7 linked regions of the Homo sapiens genome follow. The protein of the gene in region 1 interacts with the protein of each later gene in a pairwise test. Each region holds a gene or a part of one and is shown in the gene's direction. Other genes may lie near its edges.

What was found.
Region 2: the proteins of ASPH (region 1) and KCNIP1 interact in binary tests that used the Homo sapiens proteins (3 or more experiments, as listed by UniProt).
Region 3: the proteins of ASPH (region 1) and INSL5 interact in binary tests that used the Homo sapiens proteins (3 or more experiments, as listed by UniProt).
Region 4: the proteins of ASPH (region 1) and UGT2B11 interact in binary tests that used the Homo sapiens proteins (3 or more experiments, as listed by UniProt).
Region 5: the proteins of ASPH (region 1) and FKBP7 interact in binary tests that used the Homo sapiens proteins (3 or more experiments, as listed by UniProt).
Region 6: the proteins of ASPH (region 1) and KCNIP3 interact in binary tests that used the Homo sapiens proteins (3 or more experiments, as listed by UniProt).
Region 7: the proteins of ASPH (region 1) and GAL interact in binary tests that used the Homo sapiens proteins (3 or more experiments, as listed by UniProt).

What each region holds. Positions count from the first base shown.
Region 1 is NC_000008.11:61,644,781-61,649,152, reverse strand, and holds part of ASPH (aspartyl/asparaginyl beta-hydroxylase), read left to right. Parts: intron 1-2,274; coding exon 2,275-2,403; intron 2,404-4,372.
Region 2 is NC_000005.10:170,733,496-170,737,424, forward strand, and holds the end of KCNIP1 (A-type potassium channel modulatory protein KCNIP1), read left to right. Parts: intron 1-340; coding exon 341-403; intron 404-2,263; coding exon 2,264-2,311; 3' UTR 2,312-3,137; downstream 3,138-3,929. UniProt on the Homo sapiens protein: Regulatory subunit of Kv4/D (Shal)-type voltage-gated rapidly inactivating A-type potassium channels. Regulates channel density, inactivation kinetics and rate of recovery from inactivation in a calcium-dependent and isoform-specific manner.
Region 3 is NC_000001.11:66,798,299-66,803,328, reverse strand, and holds the start of INSL5 (insulin-like peptide INSL5 precursor), read left to right. Parts: upstream 1-2,052; 5' UTR 2,053-2,107; coding exon 2,108-2,282; intron 2,283-5,030.
Region 4 is NC_000004.12:69,204,749-69,209,120, reverse strand, and holds part of UGT2B11 (UDP-glucuronosyltransferase 2B11 precursor), read left to right. Parts: intron 1-638; coding exon 639-770; intron 771-3,553; coding exon 3,554-3,641; intron 3,642-4,372. UniProt on the Homo sapiens protein: UDPGT is of major importance in the conjugation and subsequent elimination of potentially toxic xenobiotics and endogenous compounds.
Region 5 is NC_000002.12:178,468,141-178,472,512, reverse strand, and holds part of FKBP7 (peptidyl-prolyl cis-trans isomerase FKBP7 isoform a precursor), read left to right. Parts: intron 1-988; exon of another isoform or gene 989-1,076; intron 1,077-2,727; coding exon 2,728-2,861; intron 2,862-4,372. UniProt on the Homo sapiens protein: PPIases accelerate the folding of proteins during protein synthesis.
Region 6 is NC_000002.12:95,380,423-95,384,794, forward strand, and holds part of KCNIP3 (calsenilin), read left to right. Parts: intron 1-1,173; coding exon 1,174-1,281; intron 1,282-1,954; coding exon 1,955-2,059; intron 2,060-2,809; coding exon 2,810-2,872; intron 2,873-3,579; coding exon 3,580-3,627; 3' UTR 3,628-4,372. UniProt on the Homo sapiens protein: Calcium-dependent transcriptional repressor that binds to the DRE element of genes including PDYN and FOS. Affinity for DNA is reduced upon binding to calcium and enhanced by binding to magnesium. Seems to be involved in nociception.
Region 7 is NC_000011.10:68,687,164-68,692,167, forward strand, and holds the end of GAL (galanin peptides preproprotein), read left to right. Parts: intron 1-677; exon of another isoform or gene 678-840; intron 841-850; coding exon 851-937; intron 938-1,628; exon of another isoform or gene 1,629-1,685; coding exon 1,686-1,763; intron 1,764-3,753; coding exon 3,754-3,824; 3' UTR 3,825-4,012; downstream 4,013-5,004. UniProt on the Homo sapiens protein: Endocrine hormone of the central and peripheral nervous systems that binds and activates the G protein-coupled receptors GALR1, GALR2, and GALR3.

The sequences.
Region 1 (4,372 bases):
TGACTGTTGCAGTAGCACAGTAGCATCCAGCTGGGTCTCCCTGTTTCCATACTTGCTCCTCTATAACCTGTGCTTAATGTGGCCCAGCCAGTTGTGCCTTGTCTGATCCCAGCCTCTTTTTCCCCTTCAGTGACTTTTCTCTAGCCCAGCTGACCTCTCTTTTCCTTGTAATTGCCAAGCCTATCACTGCTTTAGCACCCCTGCACCTGGTATATCTTTTGCTGAGATGTGTTTCCCACCCCGCCCAATCACATCTTTCAGACTGAGCATAACCTCCCTGCCCCCATCATGGTGCATTCACAACTGGATTCAGGTCCTGTATCTGCCATTGATTAGCCATGTGGCTTTAGCACAGTTTTTCAAGTTCTTCATCTTTCAAAGTAGGATACCAGTACCTGCTTCACAGGGAGGATATAACAGCTGCAGAGGGCTTGGCCATGCCTAGAGTCTCATGACCCCTTAGGAAATTTTTCATGATGAGACTCAAAGATAGTGTTCAATGTTAGACTGGTTTCGCTACAGAAAACAGGAATACTTCCACTGAACAACCGCATACGAAAGCTAAATCCTGCTAGTGTAAAAATCATCAGATTTCACTGGATAGAATGAAAGAAGAATAAGGAAAGAGGAATATGATAAAAATAAAAAGAGAAGTAAAATTTGTAGCAGAAATTCAAATTGGTGATTTGCTGAATAGCAGAAAATCTAAAATGAGGAAAAACAGTATTGCAAGCTATGAGGAGAAGATAGAAAACAAATAGCATCAACATAAATAGGCCTGCCTGATTCTCTAACACCTGAGAGCATTGCCTTGCCACGCTAAAGGGAGAGTAACTAAGGAAGGCTTCTTGCAGTCTGGGCTGGGGTTGTGGGGTAGGGGGATTCAGTAGCAGTACAAATGACAATGTTGTTATTACTGTAATAATGGTGATAATGACACCTAAATACTTAGGGCCAGGCATTTTTCTAAGTGTTTTAATCTTCATAACAATGTTACAAATAGATATTATTCCCATTTTATGGGAGGGAAATCTGTGGCACAGGGTAGTTAAGTAATTTGCCCACAGTCACCCAGCTGGTATGGAAGAGCCTGAATCTACAGCCATGCATCCGGACCCCATACTCGTCCTAATCCCTGAGCTGCACTGCAAAGCCAAGTCCTGCCCATTCACTTTCTTTAGAGTATTATACACAGGAGATACTCTGCTGGAAGCCAGGTCAAGTTACATTGGGATGCAATACCCAGTCTTAACCATGTTGCAGTGGAATCATGCAACATGTCCAACCTCTACACAAAAGAAGCAGAGCAGTTCAATATATCATAGAAGTTAATCACAGAAGAGAAAGTGGGCATCTTTGCATAACTTGAAGCCTAATAGGAACATTTGAATGCATAGTATGATTCAGGTAAACCTGTGACCTAGCATATAATTTATTTTTATTTATTTTTAATTTAATTTAATTTATTTATTTATTTATTTTGAGACAGAGTCTCACTGTGTCACCCAGGCTGGAGTGCAGTGGCACCATCTTGGCTAACTGCAACTTCTGCCCCCCAGGTTCAAGCGATTCTCCTGCCTCAGCCTCCCAAGTAGCTGGGACTACAGGCACGTGCCACCATGCATGACTAATTTTTGTATTTTTAGTAGAGATGGGGTTTTACCATGTTGGCCAGGCTGGTCTTGAACTCCTGACCTCAAGTGATCTGCCTGCCTCAGCCTCCCAAAGTGCTGGGATTATAGGCGTGAGCTGCCATGCCTGGCCCTAGCATATAATTTAGATAGGTGGCTAGTCACTCTTTGCTATAGAATATTTGAATAGTCATTTAAAGTTGTTACCTGGAATTCTATGTCAATTCCCAGGAAAAGGCCATAGAGTAGCCTTTTCTTTGACCTGAGGATAATTGAAGAGGCAAATATATTAGTAATAATTATGAATTCATTTATTCATTCATCAAATATTTATTGAGTGCTTCCTTTAGCTAGACATGGCCCTAGGTGACTGGGAATATATAATGGATAAAATATATAAGCTTCCTGTCCTGATGTGTAACATCCTAATGAGAGGAAACCTGTCCCCCACCACATATACTTAGGCAGATTAGCACTTGGCCAGAGGAAGAAAATAGCTGTGGAGTGGACAATGGTGTCTTCAGCGGCCGAAAGGAGGGGCAGGGGAAGCCCCAGCAGCAGGAGCAGGTGTGTGGCAGCCCTTCACAAGGGGCTTTCATGTCTCAGTTGTATGTTGCCAGTGTCACTTTGTTCATTGTCATAGTTGAGGGAGAAGACTTGCAACAAGAAGATGGACCCACAGGAGAACCACAACAAGAGGATGATGAGTTTCTTATGGCGACTGATGTAGATGATAGATTTGAGACCCTGGAACCTGAAGTATCTCATGAAGGTAGAACACTTTTTTTTCAAGTTTTAGGATAAAATATAATCAATGACTTCTAATTACTGAAGTTTTTCTTAAACCCCTTTAAAACTGATATTTAACTTTTGCTTAGATTTTTAAAAGTTGAAGCTTAAAGCTTCAATTAAAGCAAATTTTTTCTTAAAATAGATACCTTGATTTTGGTTCAAAGCACTTTTCAGGGAAACTCAGAATATACAAATTTCTTATAAATAGTGAGTCAAATACTTGAGGAAACTAGTTTTACTATATTCTTCTGCTTAGGGTGCTATTTGTTAAATAAAATTCAAACAACTGATGAAATATTGGACTTGATAATCTATCACAGGCTCATGTTCACACATGAACTCTGTAATTACAGTGAGCAAAACACAATTCTTAGCTTCTGTACCAGGCATTGGCAAACTTTTTTTTGTAAATAGCCAGAGAGTAAATATTTCAGGTTTTCTGGATCGTACAGACTCTGTTCAGCTACTCAACTCTGCCATCACAGCGTAAAAGCAGCCTTTGATAGTTCCTAAGTGGGTCAGTGTAGCTGTGTTTTTATACAACTTATTTGTAAAATCCTACCCAACATGGCTGGTAAGTGCAGCGGCTTGAACACAGCTCACTCCAGCCTTGACCTCCCATGCTCAAGCAGTCCTCTCACCTCAGCCTCTCAAGTAGCTGGAACCACAGGCATATGCTACCATGCCCTGCCAATTTTTAAATTTTTTATAGTGGCAAGGTCTCCTTATGTTGCCCAAGCTGGTCTCAAACTCCTGGCCTCAAGCAATTCTCCTGCCTCAGCTTTCCAAAGTGTTGGGATTGCAGGCATGAGCCATTGTGTGTCCAGTTAGCAAACACTTTTTAAAAGCATAAAAATGAAAAGTAGTTTATCTACTTTGCACAATACTAAATATTTTGGAAAATTACTTTAGCAGCAGGTAGCTCCTACTTTATGAGTACATGTATTTCCAAAAACTTATATCCATGCCTATTGTTTAGAACAGGAAATGCACTTTCCCATAAAAATATGGGATGGTTTGGTTTTCAAAAGAATTGTATATAATGCATAATTTTCTGTGAAAAATACAAGCACACAATCCTTTTGAACATCTATATGATTTATTTTTGCTGCATTACACATTGAAAATAAGCACTTATAGACTACCTTCAGAACTTTATGCCTTTAGTAATCATTTATGTCATGATTTCTTTGGGACAAGGTTTCCAGTTTCTGAGTAGGGATACTGATAAAATGATTTCCACATTTCCTGTTGCTTCTTCTCTCCAGTCTTTGGCCTAAATGGCTCAGTAAGATTGACAGTTGCTCAGAATTTTTCTATCTACATGCTGCTTATACAACAAATTTCAGTTAAGATGCTGAAATAAACAGAAGCATGAGGAATTTGATATTCTTAAAGTTAGGAGTCACAGATTGGGAGTAGGAAGAAACACTTTTAAGAAGTTCACAAATTGCAGAAACCTTACTTTCTGATCTCATCTTTAATTAGGACATAGATGCAGTTTGAACTTAAAAGTTGGTTGTTAAAAGTCTTCAGAAAATAAAAATATTTATTCTTTATATATGCATTAAATAAAATTAGCAAGGTCATAAGTGTGGTGACGGACAGATAGCTCTTCTGCTATCTGGGGTGTATGGGTTAAGTGTTCAACACATTTACCCTTCAGCTCCCTAAGGGTATAAAGCCTCTTCAGCTGTTTTTCTCTGTTCCCATCCATAGTTGCTGTACTTTCGCTCTAGAAAATGGTAGGACAGGTCGAGGAGATAGCACATTCTAGTGGGTTGTGAAGTGGATTAGAAATGAACGGCTTTCCTGGTCTGGCCTGTGTCACTCTAAGTTGTCCTCTCTCTTTAGTCCAGGGGGTGGTGGTTGTCAGCCTTGTGGGGATGAGTGGACTGAGAAGGAGAATGTGTGAGACATCCCACAGTGTACTTCTAGTGAAATATAAA
Region 2 (3,929 bases), on another chromosome or scaffold:
GGCCAGAATCAGAACCTCTTTTGCCCAGTGTTCTGCCAGATGGACAGGGTAGCAGGGAGTCTACAGAAGAAGCAGAATAAGCCAGCAGTGAGGTGATGAGTGTCCAGAGCAAGTCTTTTGATTTAAGGAAGCTCATGGGGCTCAAAGTGTTGTAATCAGGACCTAATTGGAGTTGTCTGGCCAGTGAAAGACAACTCTCATTCTCAGGGCAAAGTTGGTTAATGAAATGAATGAAATGAGCTCCAGCTCGTTACTCTGAGCTCCAGCAAGAAAGCAGGGGAGTAAGCTTTGGAATGGAGATCACCAGATTCTGTAAAGTGCTTTCTGTTATGTCTTTCAGAAAATGGACAAAAATAAAGATGGCATCGTAACTTTAGATGAATTTCTTGAATCATGTCAGGAGGTAAGGAGAGATCTCAGGGCACAATAACTCTACATCTGGGAAAGGAAACCTGGGGCCTGGGGACCTGCAGAAGGAAGGTGATGAGAAACCTGCACATACCTGCAACCCCTCCCATCAGAGCCAACAACACCAGCAACAACTGTGAAGTCCACAGTTCCACTCCTCAACCTGACCTGCAGTTGGTCTTGGCTAAGCACAAGACTGAACAGAGAGCCTAAGTAGGGGTCTGGGGGCATGTGAAAACTCAGAGGGGGTCTCTGTGAAAATAGACTTCCCGAGAGGGCAACACCATTATTTTTTAGCCTGCCTCTGGCTTGATGACCCATTTCCCAGACTACAAGGAAGCAGCTGGGGGGAAAAAAACCTACAATTGTGTGATTCTCAAACCACAGTGTGCATAAAAATTGCCTGGAATGATTCTGAAAATGCATATTTCCAGGCCTCAATCCCAGAGACTCTAGATCTGGGTCACTTTAACACAAATGTCCTGGACCAATGCTTCTAACACTTTAATGTGTGAAACAATATCCTTGATGATTTTGTTAAAATGCAGATTCTAATTCCATAGGTCTGGGGTAGGGCCTGAGATGTTACTTTTCTCACATTCTCCCCAGTCACACTGGTGATGCTGATCCTGGGAACACAACTTTCATTAAGTCTAACCAATAGACCAGCCCCAGAGTCCACCAGAGACTGAACTGGAAATAATTGCTTCATCTACTTTTGAGAAATCCATTTGTACCCCCACATTATTTTAGAAATGTTCAGAGTTACTCTGAGCTCCAGCCAAGAAGAATAGCAAATGTAAGAAAGCCGGGGAGAAGTTCCTAGCAGATACTGAGCCCCCATCAAGTTTCAAGCACATACATAAACATCACAGCCACCCTGTTATGTAGATGTCCTATGTGCAGGGTGATATCCAAGATATTTAACAACTAGAATGGAATGAACACTGACCCCCTTGGGGGTGAGTTCTCACTGTTAATTCCCTTGAGAGCTGGTTGTAAAACAGCCTGGCACCTTCCCCACCTCCAACCTTGATTCCTCTCCCACCATGGGATCTCTGCACACCCAGCTTCCCTTCACATTCCACTGTGAGTGGAAGCAGCCTGAAACCCTCACCAGATGCAGATGCCCAGCTGAACTTTCCAGCTGCCAGAATAATGAGCCAAATAAGCCTATACTGACATTAACCTTTTCATTTCTGATATTGATAATTTGAAAAGCAGTCTTAATAAGCATTTATCTACTTTATTGATTTTTTTGAAAGAGAGCGCTTTGGGGGGTTTTCTTACTGTATGTCTCTATTGCATGTTCTGTATTTTACATTTTTCTATTATTTCTTCTCTGAGGTATAGTATTGAATGTAGAAAAATCCTCAAATGTTCGGTATTAAGCAATACACTTCTAATTCATGGTTCAGAGAAGAAAATATCTCGAATAAAAATAAAATAAAAATATGACTTATCAAAATTTGTAGGATCTAAAGCAGTATTCCAGGAATGCAAGGTTGGTTTAACATTCAATAATTGGTCAGTGTAATTAATCACATTAATAGAATAAAAAGAGAAAAAATATAATCATTTCAGTGGATGTAATTGTTCAGAGCTTCTTAAAAGAAGCAACTCACTATTTTACTAGATGATTTGTTTCTTCTGAATTCCTCTTTAAGGCTACAGGTGGTGCTTCTTACTTTGAACTGATCACTTTCTAGGTCCCCACCCTTACTTCTTGTTTTTCATACCCTTGTAGAGTTTTCTCCATATAGGAAACCCATGCTTGACATTTGCTCACCAGAGTTACAGAGCTCTCAGGGAGGAGACTCAGAGTTCTAACCCTCTTGCCCTCCTTTTTTCCCAGGACGACAACATCATGAGGTCTCTCCAGCTGTTTCAAAATGTCATGTAACTGGTGACACTCAGCCATTCAGCTCTCAGAGACATTGTACTAAACAACCACCTTAACACCCTGATCTGCCCTTGTTCTGATTTTACACACCAACTCTTGGGACAGAAACACCTTTTACACTTTGGAAGAATTCTCTGCTGAAGACTTTCTATGGAACCCAGCATCATGTGGCTCAGTCTCTGATTGCCAACTCTTCCTCTTTCTTCTTCTTGAGAGAGACAAGATGAAATTTGAGTTTGTTTTGGAAGCATGCTCATCTCCTCACACTGCTGCCCTATGGAAGGTCCCTCTGCTTAAGCTTAAACAGTAGTGCACAAAATATGCTGCTTACGTGCCCCCAGCCCACTGCCTCCAAGTCAGGCAGACCTTGGTGAATCTGGAAGCAAGAGGACCTGAGCCAGATGCACACCATCTCTGATGGCCTCCCAAACCAATGTGCCTGTTTCTCTTCCTTTGGTGGGAAGAATGAGAGTTATCCAGAACAATTAGGATCTGTCATGACCAGATTGGGAGAGCCAGCACCTAACATATGTGGGATAGGACTGAATTATTAAGCATGATATTGTCTGATGACCCAAACTGCCCATGTCATTTGTTTCCAGAAACGAGGACCAATAATTCTCTCACACTGGCATTTGTGCTGGTAGTACAAGTCCTTTAATATGTCCAGGAAGGGAGCCATTGCCCAGTGGTCCATATCTCCACCACATCCCCTGCTTGAGCCCAGCGCTGCATGTCCCTCCCAAGAAGTCCAGAATGCCTGCAAATTGCTGTAATTTTATACCATGTTCTAACCAATAAACAGAACTATTTCTTACACTCTCAATCACTTCTTCATGACTCCGTTAGGTAAGAGAGGTAAGCTGTGAAAAGGGAAGGCTAGTCCATTCATTTGACACCCAATTATTAGTGCAGTTGTCCCTCCATATGTGTGAAGGATCAGTCCCAGGACTCTCCATACCAAAATCTGCAGATACTCAAGTCCCACAGCTAGCCCTGAGGGACTCGTGTTTTCAGAAAATTTGGCCTCCATATATGCAGGTTTCACATCCTATAAATACTGCATTTTCTATCACTTTTGGTTGAAAACAATCTGCATGTAAGTGGACCCAATAAGTTTAAACTCATGTTGTTGGAGGGTCAACTGTACTTACGTTGTGCCAGGCCTGTGCCAGGCAATGACTTCATCCTCCCCAGCCCCCAAGCCTTCCCCAGCAAACATCCAATCCAAATGCAAATACTGTGACCAAATGCAAATGCAACTTCGAGACAAGACCCTTCACAACACTTTGCTTCCAACAAGATTGCCACTTCTAAGACCCTCTGATATGGAAAGCCTGGAGCCCCTGTGGTGTGAGTGGGAGTGCAGAGATAAAGAGGATGACGGGGCCTCCTGCTGAGAGATTTTAGGCTCTAGAGGACCATCAAGCGGCTTCAGCCTATAACCAGCAAATGATTACTCATGTTGAACACTGTGGGTCTTAGTTTCCCCATTTGACATCACATTTGAAAGACTAAAAGCTAACAGTAGCATTCTTGGAAGGAAAACAATTTACTGAAACCCTATTTTGTGCCAGGTGCTGCACTAGGGGCTTTATATACATTATCTTATTTCATG
Region 3 (5,030 bases), on another chromosome or scaffold:
AGCTTTCTCTGATGACAGAACCATTTCTGCTTCTTTGGTCCCTTTCTTAGCAAATGACCGCCCTACCTCCCAGTTGAACAAGCCAGAAATCGAGGTATCATATTTGACATCTTTCTCTCCATTGCCCCTGATACCCAGTCAGTACCAAGCCCTTCTATATTTTGAATACACATGTGTCCTATCTCTCTTCCATGGCCTTAGTTTAGGCCACCATCATATCTAAATTATTGAAACAGCCTTTTTCTGTTTTTCCTTTCTCAAGTCTTGCCTTTCTTAATCCATTCTTCACACTACAGCCAAAGAAATGGAGAAAGCAAGACTCTTAGAAATAATTTTTATTTTTTACAGCAAAGAATGCTTTCAATTAGATAACAGATTATTTTGTTGTATTTTCCAGCTTCCCTACAGAAGAACAGTGATTTCACAAGAAGTACAAATGATATGATCATGGCCACAGACTTAGCAATTTTTTTCCAACCAGGAATCACAGACAAGGATTTCACAGAATCAACTGAACCATTATTTGTTCAACTTGCTAAAACCTGAGTCAACAGTTCTTTAAGATCCCAAACTCTGGGATTCTCAGTTTAGGTAAGACCTTTGCAAGAGCTAGTGCTTTCAGAGGTTTTACCAAAAGAGAAATTTCATTATTTAGCTATTTGGGATATGGACTTAGCTTTCTATTATCATAAATACGTGTGTTGAGAAAAGTGTACCTAGGTCATAGGTGAAGGATAACAAGATCCTAGTCAGATAAAATCTTCTGAATTCTGAAGTTATCTTTTCTAGTCTTCTATTCTGATGGTGAGAGGAGAAGCAGCTAATAATTAGTAGCTGTTTTTTTTTGTTTTTGTTTGTTTGTTTGTTTGTTTGTTTTTGTTTTGAGACAGAGTCTCGCTCTGTCGCCCAGGTTGGAGGGCAGTGGCGTGATCTCAGCTCACTGCAAGCTCCACCTCCCGGGTTCATGCCATTCTCCTGCCTCAGCCTCCTGAGTGTCTGGGACTACGGGTGCCCACCACCACGCCTGGCTAATGTTTTGTATTTTTAGTAGAGACAGGGTTTCACCGTGTTAGCCAGGATGATCTCGATCTCCTGACCTCGTGATCCACCTGCCTCGGCCTCCCAAAGTGCTGGGATTACAGGCGTGAGCCACTGCGCCTGGCCTATTAGCTGTTTATTGTACCAAGTGGGACGCATGTTATCACATTAGACCTATGAGGTAGTTACAATCATCAACACTATTTTACAAAGAAGGATGCCTTAAAAACTTGCTTAAGAGTCTAGATCTGGTAAGTAACAGCCAGGCAACAGCAACGGCCAGGATTCAAACTCAGGACATAAGAAATTGCCTACTTAAGTGTGATATCCCATTGTTCTGACATTCATATTGCTTTCAATATTCAAAAAAACCCCTGTGAGATGGGTCTTCCCATTCCAGAGATATGGTTATTGAGGTTCAAAAGGTTTTTTTGTTTACTTGTTTGTTTGTTTGTTTTTTAGAGACACGGTTTCACTGTCACCCAGGCTGGAGTACAGTGGCACTGTCATGGCTCATTGTAACCTTGAACTCCTGGGCTCAAGTATGCCATTGTGCCTGAGTAATTTTTAAATTTTTTGTAGAGATGGAGGTCTCACTATGTTGCCCAGGCTGGTCTTGAACTCCTTGCCTCAAGTGATCCATCTGTGTTGGCCTCCCAAAGTGCTGGGGTTACAGGTGTTAGCCACCAGGCTTTGCCTCAACTCAAAAAGTTTAAAACTTGCCTTATGTCACTCAGTAAGTAGCAAGGCTGAGAGTGAAACTCATTCTTGGCAACTTTCAAAGTCCGTGAGTTTTCCATAATGCCTTCCAAGAGGGCATCTGTTTTTATCATCTCACAGATGCGTTGATGGTATTAAGGAGAGACTGAATAGCTGGCAATACTCATAAAACCGCATTTTCAAAACTTTACTGTGTAACCCTATGTGCTTAGCAAATATTGTAAAAATGAGGTTCTGACCAATGAAATGTCAGGAAAGTTAGTATAAATTGGTCAAGAGAGTGACAGTCACTCCAGAATTTGATTTGACTATATTTACCATATCAGATTCACATTCAGTCCTCAGCAAAATGAAGGGCTCCATTTTCACTCTGTTTTTATTCTCTGTCCTATTTGCCATCTCAGAAGTGCGGAGCAAGGAGTCTGTGAGACTCTGTGGGCTAGAATACATACGGACAGTCATCTATATCTGTGCTAGCTCCAGGTGGAGAAGGCATCAGGAGGGGATCCCTCAAGCTCAGCAAGGTAACAGTAACTCATGTGTCTCCTCTATTTTCCTTTCACATGTCTCTTTTATTTTTTCAAGCTGTGTTTTAAACCATTATTTTATTAAGTGTTTCTCTAAGTACTGTTGAGGCATTTTTTATGTCAATTTAAGGGATTAATTATCAAAATATACTGAATTTGGCTTGGGAAAGTGATGAGCATGCTACCTTTCAAAAAATAACTACCTCATTTTTTAGTCCCCTGCTTGAAATCATTTAATCGCATGACTACTTCAATGGGCTCAGCATCTGTGGAAGGTACTTTGGAGGCTATGGCGAAGCATGTGATTTCAAGGAGCGTGTTGAAGTAGCAAGACTTTCACTCATGAATAATTGTACAATATAATAAGTTAGAATTCCGGCAGTTGTTAAATATGGATGCAAGGAAAGAAGCTGACCTTAATTGAGCACTTTTAAGTGCTGGGAAGTTACATGTGCAACATTTCATTCAGCTTTCTGATAAGGATCCTGGGAAGCAAGCAAAATTACCACCATTTATCATTTTACCAAGAAGAAAATTCTTCTCCCAGCTGGTGAAAATGTGGTTAGGTAGGAAACTGGGTCTATCTGGCTTCAAGAGCCAAGGTCTTTACTAATTCCATACTGAGTCTCGGGTGGGAAAGAGAATGTTACAAAATGTCACCTATTACAAAATGTCACCTATTTTGTAATAGGTGACAGCATCATGGAGGTGGTGGTTACTGACAGAGGCCCTGAAGGATTTGGGGATTATGGAAGGTGGTGGGGAAGCAGGGTGGGAATTCTAGTAGTAGGAATTGTCTGATCAGGATTTTGAAGGAAGAAATGAACCAAATGTCTTTCAGAAACGGTGAAGCGGCTGACTTCACTATATTTCTTTATTATTCAATTCAACTAACTTAAAAATTTGACTGAAATTCTTTCTGTTAATTCCATATTAAAGTATGAGGTAGAATTTATTTAAAATCCTATTTTTAGATTTTTATTTATTTATTTATTTATTTGATTGGAGACAGGGTCTTGCCCTCTCACCCAGGCTGGCACAATCATAGCTCACTGAAGCCTCAAACCCCTGCACTCAAGTGATCCTCACACCTCAGCCTCTTGAGTAGGTAGGACTACAGGTGTGTGCCACCACATCTGGCTAATTTTTAAATATTTTGTAGAGGTGGGGTCTTGCAATGTTGCCCAGGCTGGTCTCAAACTCCTGGCTTCAAGCAATCTTCCGTCTCGGCCTCCCAGAGCACTGGGATTACAGGCATAAGCCACTGGGCATGGCTGAAAATCCTATTTAAAAAATTATTTTTTTAATTGGTAAAAATTATATACATTTATTGTGTACAACATATTGTTTTGAAATAGGTATACATACAATATACATGTGGAATAGCTAAATCAAGCTAATTAACATATGCATTACCTCACATACTTATGTTTTTGTGATGAGGACACTTGAAATCTACTCTTTTAGCAATTTCAGGAATACAATGCATTTTTATTAACTATAGTCACCATGTTGTACAATAGACTTCTTGAAATTATTCCTTCTAATGGAAATTCTGTACTCTTGACCATCTCTTCCCCAACCATCCCCCTCACCCTCACCCTCTGATAACCATCGTTCTCCGCTATACATTTTTGAGTTTGACGTTTTTAGATTCCACATATCAGTGAGATCATGTGGTGTTTGTCTTTCTGTGCCTTGCTTAAGAGTGTATTTTAATAATTGGTTGTATTTGCTATGTTTTATACTAAAAAGTTAAAAAGGAAAAATGTGATTACATAATAAATGTTGCGACTATATGTATGATTGTTAAGGTTTCAGTTTAATTTAAAATGATGTTGGTAATAAAAACCTTTTAGAAAATGACCTAAACTGTTCATCTTTGGGTGGGCTAATGTGTTGAAAAAGCATGTATTTTCCATTTTCAGTACCACTTTAATATTGAAGTTCATATGACTAGTTGCTAACAAAAATTATATGGGTTTTTAATCTTAAGAGAGTAAGCATAATTTACCAGGATTTACAACAATCTCTGTAATAGCAAACCAAAATGCACTATAAAAATACATTTGGGATATCTCTGAAACACATAGGGGAGTGGAATGGATATCTATAAGGCTAGCTCTGTTGGACATCACTGAAATCATACTACTTATTATTCAATCTTTCTCAGATTTTCAGTGTTTTCCCACACATTATTTATCTGATCAATTACTGGTTTACCAACCAGCATCTGTTCACCTAGTTTTTCATGGTGCCTGCTGGTGTGCTAAGGCATTGATAAGTCAATTTGAACTAAATTAAAGTGAGAGAAGCTTATATATGAACTTTGGAAACAACACTTAGGCAAAAACTGTGAATTTCACTTTTTATTTTCAGATATAGAGGTTTAAATCTCCATTTCCTTCTTTACTGATCGAGATTGCAGGGCATACACAGGGTTTTTTTTTGTTTATGTGTTTTTTGTTTATAGCACATAACTAATATTGGAAGCTGCTGGTCATCCAGCAGAGGTAGCGAGTAAAAGAAGTCAAGTCCCGACTAGCTGAGCAACACTGACTGTCACTCCTCATCTTTGCACTCAAGTTTCTGCCTCTGTAAAATGAGGACAGTGGAGATGACTGTGCTCTCCCCAAAATGTCTAATCTCTCTGAAACCAGGCCAACATTTTAAAAAATTATGTGTATGATTCTATTTCATTTTAGGGATCCAGTTCATTTCCCCAGGAGTGGAATGTGGTTGCTG
Region 4 (4,372 bases), on another chromosome or scaffold:
GGAATGTCAGTGATTCTTAACCACCAGCTTTTATTTTCATTTTTTATTTTTTGAAAAACTACTGGAAAACTCTGACAAACTTTAAGTGAAGCATAAAGCATTGTAGAGGAACATAAATGTAGATATAAAATTATCCCAACTGTGAATATCTTTTCCTCAGTGCTCATATTTAGGGAAGTAGACCACTAATGGCTTCAAACTAAAAGAATTCTACAGAAAACATGCCTGAAATAAACACAAGTGATTTAGTAGAACAAAAACATAGGATTAAAGCCGAGTGGTGCCACTATTCCAAGAACTTATATTAGTAATTATAGTATTATAAGTGAAGGGTCTGGGTATATTTTTTAACATTATCTCCCTGACTACAATGTAATAGCTCCATTTCTTTCCTCCATTACACACATGCAGACACATACATACATATACACACATATTTACACAAATATCCTTAACAGAGGCCAACTATCTCAAACATCTTCTTGCAAAGAAACTGAATGATTCAGTTAAAAAATATTATTAATTCCAATAATTCCTCAAAATACTTGATTTTCTCTCTTTAATATTTGGTACCAATTCTTTCAGTAGTGCCTGCTGTGGTGATACTCTTTTGTGATGAAACAATTTTTTTTTCACAGGAAATGGAGGAGTTTGTACAGAGCTCTGGAGAAAATGGTGTTGTGGTGTTTTCTCTGGGGTCAGTGATAAGTAACATGACAGCAGAAAGGGCCAATGTAATTGCAACAGCCCTTGCCAAGATCCCACAAAAGGTAAGATAAAGGGCCTTACTGGTGTGGAAAACTGCTGAAAGAGGCTGTTAATGTTTGTGATCTACATAGAAAGAATATTAAGAGTAGAGTGAACTCTTTACATCCAAATACATCCTTAAATATGCTTATGTTGCTTCCACCAACACAAGTAATAGTTGTGCCTCAGACTTAGTGGTTACATGTGGCCCTGGGGGAGTTACTACCCTTGGTATTCATGAGTGGCTCCTATTAGTATCAGTGGGAACTCAGTACTCCGTAGGTATCCACAACAGGGAACTTGAGACTCATGGTTATTTTTAATTTCTGATATTAAGAGTCATACATACTGCTGAAATTAACTGAATATATTTCAGGTAAGTGAAAATGGTGCCTAATGTAGTCTTTAGAATGACTTTCAAGTGTTTTCAACTAAAAATATATATCCAGAACTGCATCTTTGTAGAAATACAAGGAAGACTTATGATCATTTTCTTCAAAGCTGTTTTGCTAATCTCAGCAGTATCCAATGAGTGAAGAAGATTTCACTTACTCTTGGGCCACCTCTATTACTTACCGTACTCTGGAAGCTCTTGGTGAATGTTTACAATTAAGGAATGTACTATTTCTGTTTGTACTTTAAGTCAAATGCTTATGTGAAATATGTGACAACAAATAGAGAACACTGCCTGAAGCAGGAAGATGAAAGAGAAAGGATGGAGATGGATCCTGACCTGAAGGTGGATCCTGTACAGTATAAAATATGGTCCCACAAGGACTCAGCACTAACTACCAGATTAACAACTCCTCCCAATGGAGGCAGCAGAAGGAAATATAGGAAGGAGTCAAACAGAAGGAAGAGAGGCAGGGGAACAGGTTCAGATGTCCCCTCCATAGAACATAGTAGGAATATATTTTCTTCTGTATAGAGTAAACCAGGGACCTTTGTGTATTTGTGAATGACTTTTTAATTTCCTATCTGATAAAGCTTTCTTGTAATGACCTCTAACTTTTTGCTGAAACCTGAGTTACTTTAACACTGATGTAGCAAATAAAAGTTAAACACTGCAAATTATTGTTCAGTTTGTGAGGATTGCTTTGGAGTTTCAAAATTAGTAACTTAAAATAAGAATGTCTTGGCTATAGCAGAACATATTAATCACTGTTGACAAAGATTTGTAGCACGTTATCTAAGTGTTAATAATCAGTTGACCAAATTTAGCAAAGTACAATTTTGAGTTTATTCATTAGCTTTATTTTTATTCATGATACCAAAAGGTTCCTCATTTCTAGGCCAAAAAAAAATCCAAAATTAACAATAATGGTAATATTCTGAATTTGTGTCAAAAATTGTCGCTTGAAATTTTTCTGGGAAATAGTGCTTGATAATTTGTAATTCCAATGAAGTTATACATAAAATCTTGGCAGCATTTATTTAGTTCTTATAAGTAGCTTATTTTATAGACTTGCTATTTTGTCAATCAAAGGACAACAGGCTCCAATATAATAACCTACCGACAAGTAGATACATTTAAACTACTTCTCATATTATTCAAAAATAAACGAATACATTACAATTAAATTTGGAGATGAAAACTAATATAAAATACATAAAACAAACATACAGGTCATTACTAAATAGTAACTGTTTTATTACACTAGAATTACAATCACTCCATATAATTTTTTACACTTTTTTTGTAATATTTTTATTTTTTAAATTAAATTAATTTAACTTTTATTTTTAACTTTTAAGTTCAGGAGTACATGTGCAGGTTTTTTACATAGGTAAACTTGTGTCATGGGGGTTTGTTGTACTGATTGTGTCATCACTCAGGTATTAAGACTAATATTCGTTTATTATTTTTCCTGATCCTCTCTTTCCTCCCACCCTCCACCCTCCAATACATCTCAGTGTATGTTGTTGCCATCTATGTGTCCACGTGTTCTCATCTTTTAGCTTCCACTCATAAGTGAGGACATGTCACATTTGGATTTCAATTCCTATGTTAGTTTCCTAAGGCTAACGGCCTCCAGCTCCATCCTTATCCCTGCAAAATACATATTTTTGTTTTTTTTATGGCTGCATAATATTCCGTAGTGTATATATGCCATATTTTCTTTATTCATTCCATAATTGATGGTCATTTAGGTTGACTGCATGTCCTTGCTATTGTGAATAGTACTGCAACTAACATATATTTTCATGGATCTTCATAAAAGAACCAGTTATAGTCCTTTGCTTATATACCCAGTAATGGGATTGCTGGGTTTCATGGTATTTTTGCCTCTAGGTTTCTGAGGAATGGCCACACTGTCTTCCACAATGGTTGAACTAACTTACATTCCAACCAACAGAGTATAAGCATTCCTTTTCTATACAACCTCGCCAACATCATGATATTTTTTGAATTTTTAATAATGGCCATTCTGATTGGTGTGAGATGCTATCTCATTATGGTTTTGATTTGAATTTCTCTAATGATCTGTGATGTTATTTTTCTTCATATGATGGTTGACTGCAGGTAGGTCTTCTTTTAAAAAGTGTAACAATTTTTTGAATATTTGAACTTTTCATTGATAGTCTTATTTTTCTATGGTACTGTTTTGGAAAATCATGGTTTCTTATATATCTAAATCATTATAAAAGTTAAGAAAATAAAATGTGAGTATTCTTTTTACATCAATCTTTGAGTAGATTTATTTACTAACATCCCTTGATCTCATTCCTATGCTTTCTACAGTTCTAACATTCTATAATTTTTGAGTTCCACTCATGGAATAAGATATTCTCTTTACTGTAACAGGTTCTGTGGAGATTTGACGGGAATAAACCAGATGCCTTAGGTCTCAATACTCGGCTGTACAAGTGGATACCCCAGAATGACCTTCTAGGTAACACTCTGGTGAACAAATACTGGATATATTAGTAACTGCACATTAGAGGGTTAATGAAACATGCTTATTGAATATTTGTTATAGGAAAACAAAAAAGAACTTCTTTGTATTTATTTTCCAGTCCTAGGGGAAAAGAATATGGTAGAATTGTTGGCATTTTATGATATATAATCACATTCTTTATGGTCAGAATCAGAGATAATCTTTATTTCAGGTGCTATTATATCTCACAGAATTTTTCAATATCTTCCTGGGCTGTCTCTCTGTCTCCTGTTTCTACAATTTTACACCTGTTTTCTCCTCTCCTGCAGGATTATTTCAAATGCCAGTAAATATAATAGCTCTTCTATCACCAGTAACTCTGTATTTTCTGGAGGACTAAATTCCTAATCTTAATCTTAAAGTAACGACACATTTCATGATGAAGTGTGACCTGTCTTTCCTCAATCCTAGCACCACCACCAACCCACTGCCTGCTGCCTTGCATACCCCGCATATCACACTCTGTGACTGTAGTTAAAATAAAACTTTATTTCATGCCCATCTCTTTGCTGTCCTCTTTTGTGCACATTTAAAAAATCTAGAATGCACTTTTCATTAGTCCAACTGAAAATCTTGTATTAAGTTTTGCAGTCTGAAGTCACACACACCACATAGCTTTCAGTTACATCTCCTAAACAAGTACGTGCTTTTTCATCTGAAGTCTGAAAAGTAATAGCAAATTAGTT
Region 5 (4,372 bases), on another chromosome or scaffold:
ACAGAGGAAGATTCTTGTCTAAAAAAAAAAAGTGGTATAAGCCACTGCGCCCGGCCAATATTTTCTATGTTTATAGCAAAATTGTTCAAAAACTGCATATGTACCTACAATATTTTTTCTTAAGAAATTCAAGTTTTGGGCTGGGCACAGTGGCGTATAGCTGTAATCCTAGCACTTTGGGAGGCCGAGGTGGGTGGCTCACCTGAGGCTAGGAGTTCAAGACCAGCCTGGCCAACATAGTGAAACCCCGTATCTACTAAAAATACAAAAAATAGCTGGGTGTGGTGGCTTGTGCCTGTAATCCCAGCTACTTGGGAGGCTGAAACACAAGAATCACTTGAACTCGGGAGGTGGAGGTTGCAGTGAGCCAAGATCGCGACACTGCACTACAGCCTGGGCAACAGAACAGATTCTGTCTCAAAAAAAAAAAAAAACGAAAAGAAAAGAAATTTGAATTTGTGTTTTGAGTTTGCCTTGAATTATTGTCAGGAGACAATAATTCTGTCATAAGGAGATAACTGGAAAAAATAGGAATGGGTTTTATAAAACAATCATTGACTCAATCTCTAGCTCTTCTACTCTAAAGTCAGGTAATATGTGGTGCATTAGGTTAGGACTTTTATGTTAGTCATATGATGCATGGGTAGATCTTTCTATGTTTTCTCTTTGAAAACTACTAATCTGCTACTCCTTTTGGCTATAACTCACAAACTCTTTTCTCTTCAGACTATATAAAGACTTTAGCTAGAATGCTTCACTTTTTTATTAAAGAAATTGCTGTTTCCTTCCAAGGACAAACATTTTAAAAATAAATGATATGGGTCATTCATTCGGCAAATATTGGACTGCCTGTAGTAGATTAGGCACTGTGTAGGACACTGGCAATATACTGATGACACAAGCTACCCGCTGCCCCTTAGCAAGTCATTTTTGCAAGTCACTTTTATGACATATTTATCTGAAATAGCCCATCACTTATTAAAATCACCTGTGACATCATGGCCTGGCACGGTGACTCACGCCTGTAATCCCAGCACTTTGGGAGGCCAAGGTGGGTGGATCCTTTGAGGTCAGGAGTTTGAGACCAGCCTGGCCAACATGGTGAAACCCCATCTCTATTAATAAAGTATAAAAAATTAGCCAGGATTGGTGGCAGGCACCTGTAATCCCAGCTGCTCGGGAGGCTGAGGCAGGAGAATTGCTTGAACCTGGGAGGCAGAGGTTACAGTGAGCCGAGATCGTGCCATTGCACTCCAGCCTGGGTGACAGAGGAAGATTCTTGTCTAAAAAAAAAAAAAAAATCTGTGACATCAGCTAATAGGTTAACTTAATTAAAGAGAGCAATTCTGGCCAGGCACAGTGGCTCACATCTGTAATCCTAGCACTTAGGGAGGCCAAGGCAAGCGGATCACCTGAGGTCAGGAGTTCAAGACTAGCCTGGCCAACATAGTGAAACCCCATCTCTACTAATAATGCAATGCCTGGTGTGCACCTGTAATCCCAGGTACTCAGGAGGCTGAGGTAGGAGAATGGCTTGAACCCAAGAGGCAGAGGCTGCAGTAAGCGGAGATTGCACCACTGCACTCCAGCCTGGGAAACAGAGTGAGACGCCGTCTCAAAAAAAATAAATAAAAATAAAAATAGGTATTCAACTTATTGCTTAAAAATGTATACAATTTCTTTGTAAAATTGTTACTGAATTTTTATTTTAATTCTTTTTTTTTTTAATAGAGACAGGGTCTCACTATGTTGCCCAGTTTGGTCTCAAACTCCTGGGCTCAAGTGATCCTCCTGTCTCGGTCTCCCAGAGTGCTAGAATTACACGTGTGAGCCACTGTGCCCAGCCTGTTACTGGATTTTTCTATCATTGCACTTATTTTTTAATGTCTATAAAAAATTTGAAAGACAAATATATTAATACTTATGTTTTATTTATGCTTCCAAATAACTACACAAAATCACTTTCTAAAAGATGACTCATCTATGCTTTGCAATTTTTCTGCCCATGCATTTCTTCTCTGTGCCACCTCTCTTCTGTGTTGATGATAGGAGAGTACAGTTGTCTCTCAGTACCTGTTAGAGATTGGTTCCAAGACCTTCTCATGGATTCCAAAATCCACAGAAGCTCAAGCCCCTGATACAAAATGGCATCACATTTGCACATAACCTCTGGACATCTTCCGGTGTACTTTAAATTATCTCTAGATTACTTATAATATCTAATACAATGTAAATGTTATGTAAAAGATTGTTATATTGTATTGGTTAGGGAATAATGACAAGACAAAAGTCTGTACATGTTTATTACAGACACAACTATCCTTTTTTTGTATGAATATTTTCAAGCCGAGACTGGTTGAATCCACAGATGCAGAACCCACAGATATAGAGGGTCATATCCATGCATTAATAAAAAGTTTATGATTTTTACTTAAATTAATCAAGAAATAGTGGTCCCATAGGTCCTTTGAATTGACTTGGTTTGGAAACATATGGAAAAAATATTCCTAAAAAAGTATTTATAAAAAAAAGAGAAAAAAAAACAAAAAAGAAAACTATTGAAAAGCCGAAAAAAGTTATAAAAGATGAGAAAAAATTAAAAATTGTGAGTATTCAGATAGCAATTCTTATCAACATGAAATAATATAATATGGTTATGGCAGTTCATGAATAGATATTTGAACTATATCTTTACATAAGTTAAACTGTTAAAATTTATACCCTTAGCAGAAGGCAAGATTCCACCGGATGCTACATTGATTTTTGAGATTGAACTTTATGCTGTGACCAAAGGACCACGGAGCATTGAGACATTTAAACAAATAGACATGGACAATGACAGGCAGCTCTCTAAAGCCGAGGTAATTCAAACCAATTTCATGTGTATAGTCTAATTTTTTTATCACAGTTTAAATACATCTGTGTTACAACTATTACTTTTTAGGTCTAGCTAGCATGGGCTCTGATCACTGCTTTTATAGAGCTGGTCACTAAAAAATAATCTAAGCGCTTAGAAAAAGCTCTAAGCTTTTTCAGTATAAACCTTGTGAGTCATCCTGTTCAATTGCCTTTCTCCCTGCAAGAGAGTCATTAAAATCCCGAATTATTTGTCTCTACAGTGCTCTTCCAGTTTCTAGATTACACTAGCATATCTCTTTTTCAGACAGCACTGTAAGAATTTGCAACAGGGCAAATAATTCACGCCTCATAGGATGATGAAAAGAGCTAGCAAGGGTCTGAATTGAGTGGGCTAGAAAGTTGGTAAACAGGAGCCAGAAGTTCAGCCAGCTAGCGTCTGTATCTCAGCCTTGTAATAAAGATCTTGTAATAATAATGATAATTGGGCTGGGCATGTGGCTCATGCCTATAATCTCAACACTTTGAGAGGCCGAGGTGGGAGGATTGCTTGAGCCCAGGAGTTCAAGACCAGCCTGGGCAACACAGGGAGACCCCCGTCTCTACAAAAGATTTAATAAATTAGCCAGGCATGGTGGTGCATACCTGTGGTCCCAGCTACTCAGGAGGCTGAGAGGTAGGAGGATCGCTTGAGCCCAGGAGGTTGGGGCTGCAGTGAGCTGTGATCATGCCACTGCACTCCAGCCTGGAAGATAGACTGAGACCTTGCCTCCAAAAAAAAAAAAAAGATAATAATAGATAACATTTATTTTATACTTTTAGTACCAGGTACTATTTATAAGCACATAAGTATGTGAACTTATGTAATCTTCATGATAGTTTATGGGGCAGACACTATTGTCATCATCTTCGCTTTTAGATGGGGAAAATAATAATCAGGTTAATCAGCCAAAAATCACACAGTAGTAAGGGGCAAAACCTGGGCAATCTGGCTTCATGACTGTTCTTACATTTCAATTTTTTAAATTTTTCTTAGAGACAGGGTCTTTCTCTGTTGCCCATGCCAGGGTGCAGTGAAGTGATCATAGCTCACTGCACCCTTAAACCCCTGGGCTCAAGCGATCCCCGCAGCATGCCACCATACCCAGCTAATTTTTTTTTTTTTTTTAAGAGATGGAGTCTCACTACATTGCCCAGGCTAGTCTTGAACTCCTGGCCTCAAGTGATTCTCCTTCTTCAGCCTCCCAAAGTGCTGGGATTACAGGTGTGAACCATCATGCCCAGCCCACTACTATATTTTTAACTTTGGGCCTAGACTGCTTCTTTCAGAGAAAATCATGAATGTTTCAAGTCTAATACTATTTATTGAATTCTAATGTCTTACTTAGTCCCACTGACGATACTCCTGCTTAAAATTAGTAAACCAGCTGTCTCCCCTCTTAACTAGTTAGGAGACATTTAAAAATGTGTAACTCTACCACATAAGTAAGTAGTAAAAGCTAACTAGGTTGATTTC
Region 6 (4,372 bases), on another chromosome or scaffold:
TGCATGGCCCTGTCCCTTGCACTCTGACCGTCCTCTGTCCCACTTCGCTGGTACAGCCCCTTTCTCACCCCTTTCTTTCAGAGTAGCCTGGGAGGACCCCAGGGTGCAGGGAGGGTTTCACCTTTAAACCTTCCAAGAGGTAGGGGGAAAACCTGCTTTCTACCAACTGCTGTAACAAAACAGTTGAAGTTGTCACATGGAAACCATTTAAACAGCCATATTCTGTCATATTAGTAGTAAAGTTTCCCATGCCAAAGGCGATGGCCACACACAGCATGTCATGACTCAAGAGTTGAGCACCAGGTTTGGGCGAGGTGGCCCTGGGATTACACCTGTAATCCCAGCACTTCTGAAGCCCAAGGTAGGAGGATTACTTGGGGCCAGGAGTTGGAGACCAGCCTGGACAACATAGCGAGACCCCATCTCTATAAGTATAAAATAAATTAGCCAGGCATGGATTATTCCGAGTGGTCCCAGCTACTCAGGAGGCTGAGGTGGAGGATCGCTTGAGCCTGGGAGTTTGGGACTGCAGTGAGCCATGATGGCGACTGGTGACAGTCTGAGACTCTGTCTCTAAAAACAACAACAAACAAAAAGCTGAGCATCATTCCTCTAGCTATTTAATCTGGAAGTTTTCAAGCACCTTTGCCATGCAGATGCTTGGCAGAATAAACATAGAGCACCTCCTTTATTAAAAGAGTACCCCAGGCGTCTCCAGCGGCAGCACTGCATTAAATGGGTCTAGGACACCATATATATTTGAATATCTTTCTCTGGCATCAGTATCAGCTACCATGCCACTCCTGCCACACATGCAGACACATGCGCATGCACTCACACAGGTTCACACACTCACACAGGTGCACACACAGGTGCACACCCTCACAGGTTCACACATACAGATGCACACCCTCACACAGGTGCACACCCTCACACAAGTTCTCACACAGGTGCACACCCTCACACAAGTTCACACACACAGGTGCACACCCGTGCATGCGCTCACACACGGGCACACACTCACCCTGTGCTGACCTGAATGGATGCCGTCAGTCTCTTAGGGAGGCTCTGTGCCTGTTGGAGGCGTGAATTTCAGTGGAAGCCACACAGCAACTGGAACTAGAACCTGGGCATTGATTGGATGTCACGCCCCACACTCTCCTTTCCCCATAGGACTTTGTGGTTGGCCTCTCCATCCTGCTGCGGGGCACAGTCCACGAGAAGCTCAAGTGGGCCTTTAATCTCTACGACATTAACAAGGATGGCTACATCACCAAAGAGGTAGTAGGGGGCTGGGGGCAGGGATTGTCCCCTCCTCCCCTCCTGCTGCTCCACCCCTCCCGCCGCTCTTCCTCTCCCTGCTCCTGCTGCCCACCTGTCTTCTCCCGCTGTCCATCCAGAGACTGGCCCCAGGGACAGCAGCCAGTGGGCTCTCCTCTCCTGGGCTCGGTCCTGGACACCCCGGTGTGGAGTGTGGGTTCAGGTACCCTGTACCACACATCTCGGTCCAGCTCAGCAAGTGTTCTCGGTCATACTGTCTTACACAAAAGGCCTCGGGGAGATTTAAGTGGAGAAGCCAGAGGTCCTGGCCTTGGCCCCCATCAAGTGAAGGGGGCAGTGCGGTCCCTTAAGGCATGGGTGGAGAGGGGAGCCCTCGCACATGGGCCCACAGACAGGTTTTGTTTGGTCCAAGCACTTTTTCTGCTGCCGCGTCACATTTTGGAGATAAGCACATAGCAATCCATCTCCCACTTCTCTGGGAGATGAGCTTCCCCTAGAGTCAGAAGCTCGCTCTGGGTGCCCTGGAAGCGGACAGGCTTCTCTCTCCAGCTCGTCCGGCCCCTCGCACTCACTGCCTTGGAGGTGCCCTGCACCCTTGGATGCCGCCCGCTCCCTTTGGGCCCTCACAGCCACCCCGGCCTTGCAGCAGGCTCATGCCAGCCTCCCCCTCCAGGAGATGCTGGCCATCATGAAGTCCATCTATGACATGATGGGCCGCCACACCTACCCCATCCTGCGGGAGGACGCGCCGGCGGAGCACGTGGAGAGGTTCTTCGAGGTGAGCGAGCGCCAGCCCTGCCTAGGGAGGGGAGCCTGGCAGAGGAAGGGGCTCTCGCTTTTGGGGCCACCCCGGGCAAGTGGCTTGCCCCTCTGAGCCTCCCTACTCCCCATGAGGAGGTTAAACTTGCCCCTCCAGTCTGGCTGGTTGTCAGAACCCCTGAGAAGTGAACTACACCACTGCTCTGCCCTGTGGACCTCATCTGGGGGCCAGAGCTGGGGATCCTGAGGCAGCTGACCCTGGGCCGGAGCTCCATGCCTCCTGAGAGCTGTGTGGCTCCTCCAGGAAGACGCTCTGGGAGAGGAGCAGGTTGGGGGCCTTCACCTGTATGCATGGCGGCTGCAGGGGCTGCAGGCTTTGCCTCCTACTTGCTGGGGCCACTAGACATGGGCCATCCTGTGACTCAGTTGCTCCCTCTGCCCTGGCTGCCTCTCAGGGAGGTGAGGCGGTCAGATGAGCATGGGGACAAATTCTGGGAAACCCAAGCCCAGGAGGGCTCAGGGAATTGGCCTAGGGGAGCAGTGGGGAGATGCTTGGAGCCTCAGCAGTTGGTTGGGAGGTGGCTATGAAGGGTGGATTATGTGGCCTGGATCCAGAGTAGTCACAGGGGACAAGTTAGAGTGGAGGGAGCCCACCCGCCCATCCACCCACCCGCCCATCCACCCACCCATGACTTCTGCGTCCTCAGGCCAGGGGCGGGGCTGTCTCTGCTGGGGCACAGACTCACTTTGGGCATGGCTTGGGTTGCAGAAAATGGACCGGAACCAGGATGGGGTAGTGACCATTGAAGAGTTCCTGGAGGCCTGTCAGAAGGTAGGTGGCACGGGAGGCTGGGCCACAGTTCTCTGCAGGCTCTACACGGAGGTGGGTGGTTGGCAGCGTCTGCCCCTTCCCTCACCCCAGTCCCACCCCTGCCAGTCCAGGATGTGGCAGCTGTCCTTGGCCCCTTGCCACCTCCTGGACAGCCCCAAGCTCCACTTGCCCTCTTGTCTGAGTCTCCTCCTCCCCACCCACCCCTGCAGCCCACAGCATCCCCCCACTACCCCCACACCCTCCCTCAGCCCAGTCCCTGGAGAACCTCAAGTTAGGGGCAGACATGGGGCCAGCCAGAGGGAGAGGGTCACCGTGGGGAGGCACCAGAGCTTCCGCAGTGTTGCTGCTGGCCCTTCCAGAGAGCACCTCAGGGGGCAGGATGCTGGGCCTCCAGCGCCTCTATTGCCCCACTCCCAGAGCAGTCCTGGTTAGCGCCCACCTCCTCTGGAGGCCAGCCGGGATCGCCTTCATCAGCTCATCCCAGATGGGCTTGCAGTCAGGAGTGGGGTTGAAGACAGGCTGTGCCTCACCAGCTGGGGACCTCGGACCAGCTACTTCACCTCCCTGTCCCCCAGCTCCCTGCACCCAATAAGACAGACAGACAGGCAGTCGCTGCAGGCTCCGAGTCCCTGGCGGGAATCTGCTCAAGGGGGTCGGATTTGGAGCCCACCCAGCACCTGAAGGCCTCCCTTCCTCTCTCCATGCAGGATGAGAACATCATGAGCTCCATGCAGCTGTTTGAGAATGTCATCTAGGACACGTCCAAAGGAGTGCATGGCCACAGCCACCTCCACCCCCAAGAAACCTCCATCCTGCCAGGAGCAGCCTCCAAGAAACTTTTAAAAAATAGATTTGCAAAAAGTGAACAGATTGCTACACACACACACACACACACACACACACACACACACAGCCATTCATCTGGGCTGGCAGAGGGGACAGAGTTCAGGGAGGGGCTGAGTCTGGCTAGGGGCCGAGTCCAGGAGCCCCAGCCAGCCCTTCCCAGGCCAGCGAGGCGAGGCTGCCTCTGGGTGAGTGGCTGACAGAGCAGGTCTGCAGGCCACCAGCTGCTGGATGTCACCAAGAAGGGGCTCGAGTGCCCCTGCAGGGGAGGGTCCAATCTCCGGTGTGAGCCCACCTCGTCCCGTTCTCCATTCTGCTTTCTTGCCACACAGTGGGCCGGCCCCAGGCTCCCCTGGTCTCCTCCCCGTAGCCACTCTCTGCCCACTACCTATGCTTCTAGAAAGCCCCTCACCTCAGGACCCCAGAGGGACCAGCTGGGGGGCAGGGGGGAGAGGGGGTAATGGAGGCCAAGCCTGCAGCTTTCTGGAAATTCTTCCCTGGGGGTCCCAGGATCCCCTGCTACTCCACTGACCTGGAAGAGCTGGGTACCAGGCCACCCACTGTGGGGCAAGCCTGAGTGGTGAGGGGCCACTGGGCCCCATTCTCCCTCCATGGCAGGAAGGCGGGGGATTTCAAGTTTAGGGATTGGGTCGTGGT
Region 7 (5,004 bases), on another chromosome or scaffold:
AAATACGCGTTAATTCTCCTTTGTCTGGCCTTGTAGATGGCACAGTCCACCCAGGCCAACCAGCTGGAAACACAGAGGCGTCCTCACCCTCGTCCCCATCTCTCATTTCCATTTCCTTTCCTGCACAGCCCCAAATCCAGCCCTCCTCTTCACCCCACGCCTCTTGGTTTACAGCCTTCATCGTTTCTTCCCTGGAATTCTGGGATCTCTGTGCTTGCAATCACAGTTCCTCCATTTTCGCACCACGAAACACACCCACACACACACGGGAACGCACACACGCTCCTGCACCCCCCACCCCCATCCTGTCTCCCTCTGTGACCCTCTCGCTCCCTCTGTCTCTCTCCTTCTCTCTCTCTGGCTCCAGTCCATCTTGCACACAGCTGCCAGAGTGAAAATAAAAATCAGATTCAGTCACAACTTAAACTCTTCAGCGTCCCCCATGCTTTCAGGGACATGAGGACCCAGCTCCTGTTGTCTGCCAGGGAGTCACCCAGTTTGATGCCAGCTCAGTGCCAGCTCAGATGCCAGCTCCTCTGGACCCAGGCGCAACCCCTGCAACAGGGCAGGTTCTGGGCCTCTCCCCCACTTCAGGAGCCACACCTCCCTTTCTCCCACCCACCCTGTGCAAACCCTCACATTCCCTTTGACCCTGGTGTGAGCGGCCAAGCTCTTACCTCAGCTGGGTGGAGAATCGCTCCCTCTGCTCTGGTGTCTGTCCCTGGGCTCTATTTCACAGTCGAGTTGCGTGTGTGTGTTGGCTACAGGCAGCCCTGTGTCCTTCTTTGGGTGTGGGGAGGGCGTGCATGACAGTCACACCCAGAGGCTTTCCTCTCTGATCTGCAAACAGATGCCGTTGGCAACCACAGGTCATTCAGCGACAAGAATGGCCTCACCAGCAAGCGGGAGCTGCGGCCCGAAGATGACATGAAACCAGGTGAGAGGACTCCTATCCCGGGCCCCGGGGCACCTCACTTCCACCAGCTCCCAGGTGCATGCAGGGGACAGCTGTGGGTGTCGGGGCTGTCCACAGCTGCAGCCCAAGCCTGGCCATGACTTGACTAAGACGATGTGGCCTCGCCACACCTGTCAGCAGCTGCAAACAGAACGTGCAAACCCGAGACAGCAAGGGGTCCTTCTAGGCTGGGAGGCTGCCCAGGCACCAGGGCCTCCAGAAGAGCGGGACTGGGCACGATGGCTCCTGCCTGTAATCCCAGCACTCTGGGAGGCTGATGCGGGTGGATCACCTGAGGTCTGGAGTTCAAGACCAGCCTGGCCAACATGGCAAAACCCTGTCTCTACCAAAAATATAAAAATTAGCCAGGCGTGGTGGTGGGTGCCTGTCATCCCAGCTACTTGGGAGGCAGAGGCTCGAGAATCACTTGAACCTGGGAGGCGGAGGTTGCAGTGAGCCAAGATCATGACACTGCATTCCAGCCTAGGCAACAGAGTGAGACTCCATCTCAATTAAAAAGAAGAAGAAGAAGAAAAGCGAGGCCTCGAACTGGATATCTCCCCAACTCCCTCACATTGAACAAGGGCCTTGGAAAGCACAGCAGGGCCTCAGGCTGCTGGGATCAGATCATTGACCTTGCAGCGCCCAGCTCCTCTGTAGGGAGGGGGATGACCTGAGACACTGAAGCACCCTCTGCACAAGTCGTGAATGTTGATCTTTTCTCTTCTAGGAAGCTTTGACAGGTCCATACCTGAAAACAATATCATGCGCACAATCATTGAGTTTCTGTCTTTCTTGCATCTCAAAGGTATGTGAAATATCATCAACTTAACATTCATCTCTTAGTACACTGGAAACGTAAAAGGCCCATCGAGAAGAGAACCCATAGAATCCCCCTGGGAAGTAGCCGATTACTTATCTACGTACAAAGTCCTGTTTGGCTGTGTGTCGGGATAACAGAGAATGTAACACTAGAGCTAGCTCCAGAGGGCTGGGATTGCGGCAGGGGCATTCTACCGTCGTGGAGGGCCATCGGGCCAGCGCTGGTCCCAGGAAGAGAGTGGGCCTCAGGGTGCAGCTCATTCTACTGGAACCATATCTATTCACACGGTGACAACTGCTGTACCTTTTAGGGCAGAGGTATACTACAGGCCAAGTTCTTTGTGAACCGTCCTAAACCTTTTCTCTTTTCTTTTTTCTCTGTCTTTTCTTTCTCTTCTCTCTTTTCTTTCTTTCTTCTTTCTCTTCCTTCCTTCCTTTTTCTTCCTCCCTCTTTCTCTCTCTCTTTCTTCCTTCCTTCCTTCATCTCACTCTGTCGCCCAGGCTCGAATGTAGTGGTGCAATCTCAGCTCACTGCAGCCTCTGCCTCCTGGGCTCAAGTGATTCTCGTGCCTCTTCTTCCCAGGTAGCTGGGAAAACAGGTGCGCACAATTATGCCTGGCTAATTTTTGTATTTTTAGTAGAGGCTGGGGTTCATCATGTTGGCCAGGCTCATCTTGAACTCCTGGCCTCAAGTGACCTGTCTGCCTCAGTCTCCCAAAGTGCTGGGATTACAGGCGTGAGCCACTGTGCCTGGCCCTAAACCATATTTTCTAAGCATGGGAAATTAATAGAAGCCCATATCTTAGACTGCAGTGTTTCTCTATGCAGCCTTCCTGCCAGGCAGGCTGCCTTGAAATCTAACTGGAAAGGCTCTGATCCTGGCTTCCAGTGTCTTCTGCAAACACTGGGGATGAGGAGACCTCCGCACACTACGCTTGGCATTCATTCTACGATGGGCATCTGGCCTTGATCAGATAACCACACAGGTCCTACTGCAGCAGTGGAGGGAGCCGGAAAGCGGCCCCGGTGCTCTGAGGGTTAACAGGGAGGTGGTGGTGGGGAGGAGGGATGGACCGCTTTGCCTCTCCAGCAGAGAAGACCTTCACCTGGTGCTCTGAGAGTTAAGGGGGAGGCAGTGGTGGGGAGGAGGGATAGACCGCTTTGCCTCTCCAGCAGAGAAGACCTTCACCTGGTGCTCTGAGAGTTAAGGGGGAGGTGGTGGAGGGGAGGAGGGATGGACCACTTAGCCTCTCCAGTGGAGAAGACCTTCACCTGCTGCTCTGAGAGTTAACAGGGAGCTGGTGGTGGGGAGGAGGGATGGACCGTTAGCCTCTCCAGTGGAGACCTTCAGTTGCACATCACAGTTTTGTCCAGTTTTGAAAAATCAAGGCTAATCCTTGGGTTCATTTTGGATCAGGATGTTTTTCATTTGCAGTGTTATCGGGCTGCACTTTAGGTGGCGATGGGGAGAGGGAAGAGGAGTGAGGGGAGGGGAGCGGGGGAAGGAGACTGCCAGAGAAGGTCTTGGAAAAGGCGGTGTTCATTAGAAATCTCAAAACCGAGTCACCAAGTTCCCTCTGTTGGAGCCCAGTGGAGCCTCTGGGAGAAAAGCTGGGGTGACTTTTCCTACAAGGGGCAGAGGGACTCTGCTAGATTTTTGTTTTTCATTTGTTTTTAATTTTGTAACATGGAAACTCTTTCCTTAGGATATACCAGCTCTCATTACTCAGCTAGGAATTATACCTCTTTAAAGCCTGAATTTAAAAGTCTGACAGTTTTAAATGCTTACTAACTGTGGGAGTTAAATCATTACGAAGTGAGGAATACAGAGTGTTGTCCCTGATTCTGGGTTTAATCTGGTAAGAATCTTTACAGAGGACGACCACACGCCGCTTCCTGTAGCATGTGTCGTGGTTGTAATTCTCTCATGTGCATATTAAGAAGTTGCTGCTCAGATGTGGCTCTTCCCTTTGCAGAGGCCGGTGCCCTCGACCGCCTCCTGGATCTCCCCGCCGCAGCCTCCTCAGAAGACATCGAGCGGTCCTGAGAGCCTCCTGGGCATGTTTGTCTGTGTGCTGTAACCTGAAGTCAAACCTTAAGATAATGGATAATCTTCGGCCAATTTATGCAGAGTCAGCCATTCCTGTTCTCTTTGCCTTGATGTTGTGTTGTTATCATTTAAGATTTTTTTTTTTTGGTAATTATTTTGAGTGGCAAAATAAAGAATAGCAATTACTTGCAATTGTCTTTTTCTTCCACACCTCTGTCTCATCACCAGCGCCACCCATGGGTTTTAAAAGATAAAGCTTGATCATAATCGTGGATTAGACATGAATTTTAAACCCAAATTCTACCGTCAAGAGCATCTGAGACACCACCTGTTATTGCATGTCCAGGGGACATAAATTTATCTCCATATTAAGCTGAGTCAAATGTAATTATGAAGGTAAGTCTGTTACTGAGATGAACAAAAACACAAAACAGACAAAACCCCTGCCCTCGTGGAGCTGATATTTTAGGGAGATGGGAATGAAAAAGACTACAACAACCTTAAACAGATGGGTGAGTTGCGTGGTACTCATGGAGGTGGTCAGTGCTGAGAACAGACGTGTTGGCCAGGTGGGAGGGCCAGGAGCAAGGCAGGAGAGGAGAGATGGGCGGGCAGGTAGAAAGGCAAGGGCAGGAGGTGTGTGCAGGGATGGTGCTGTGTGAAGGAAGGCCTGTGGGAATATCTCTTAACGTGACAGAGACTGAGTCTTTTGAGCAGAGATAAAAAGATCATCCCAGAAGTTTCGAAAAGAAGGCAGGCGACCTGTCGCGGTGGCTCATGCCTGTAATCCCAGCACTTTGGGAGGCCGAGGTGGGCGGATCACTTGAGGTCAGGAGTTTGTGACCAGCTTGGCTAACATAGTGAAACCCCATCTCTACTAAAAATACAAAAATCAGCCGGGCATGGTGGTGCACGCTTGTAATCCAAGCTACTTGGGAGGCTGAGGTTGGAGAATCATTTGCTCCTGGGAGATGGAGATTGCGGTGAGCCAAGATCACACTCTAGCCTTGGCGACAGAGCGAGACTCCGTCTCAAAAAAAAAAAAAAAAAAAAAAAAAAGAAGGTAGGCGAGGGGGAAAAGCCGGACATTTCTGTCAACGTGGGAGGTGGTACACAGGCCTTTTTGGTTTCACCAGAGCTGGCTGTGCGGTGGGAGTGGGAGGTGGTTTCCCAGTTT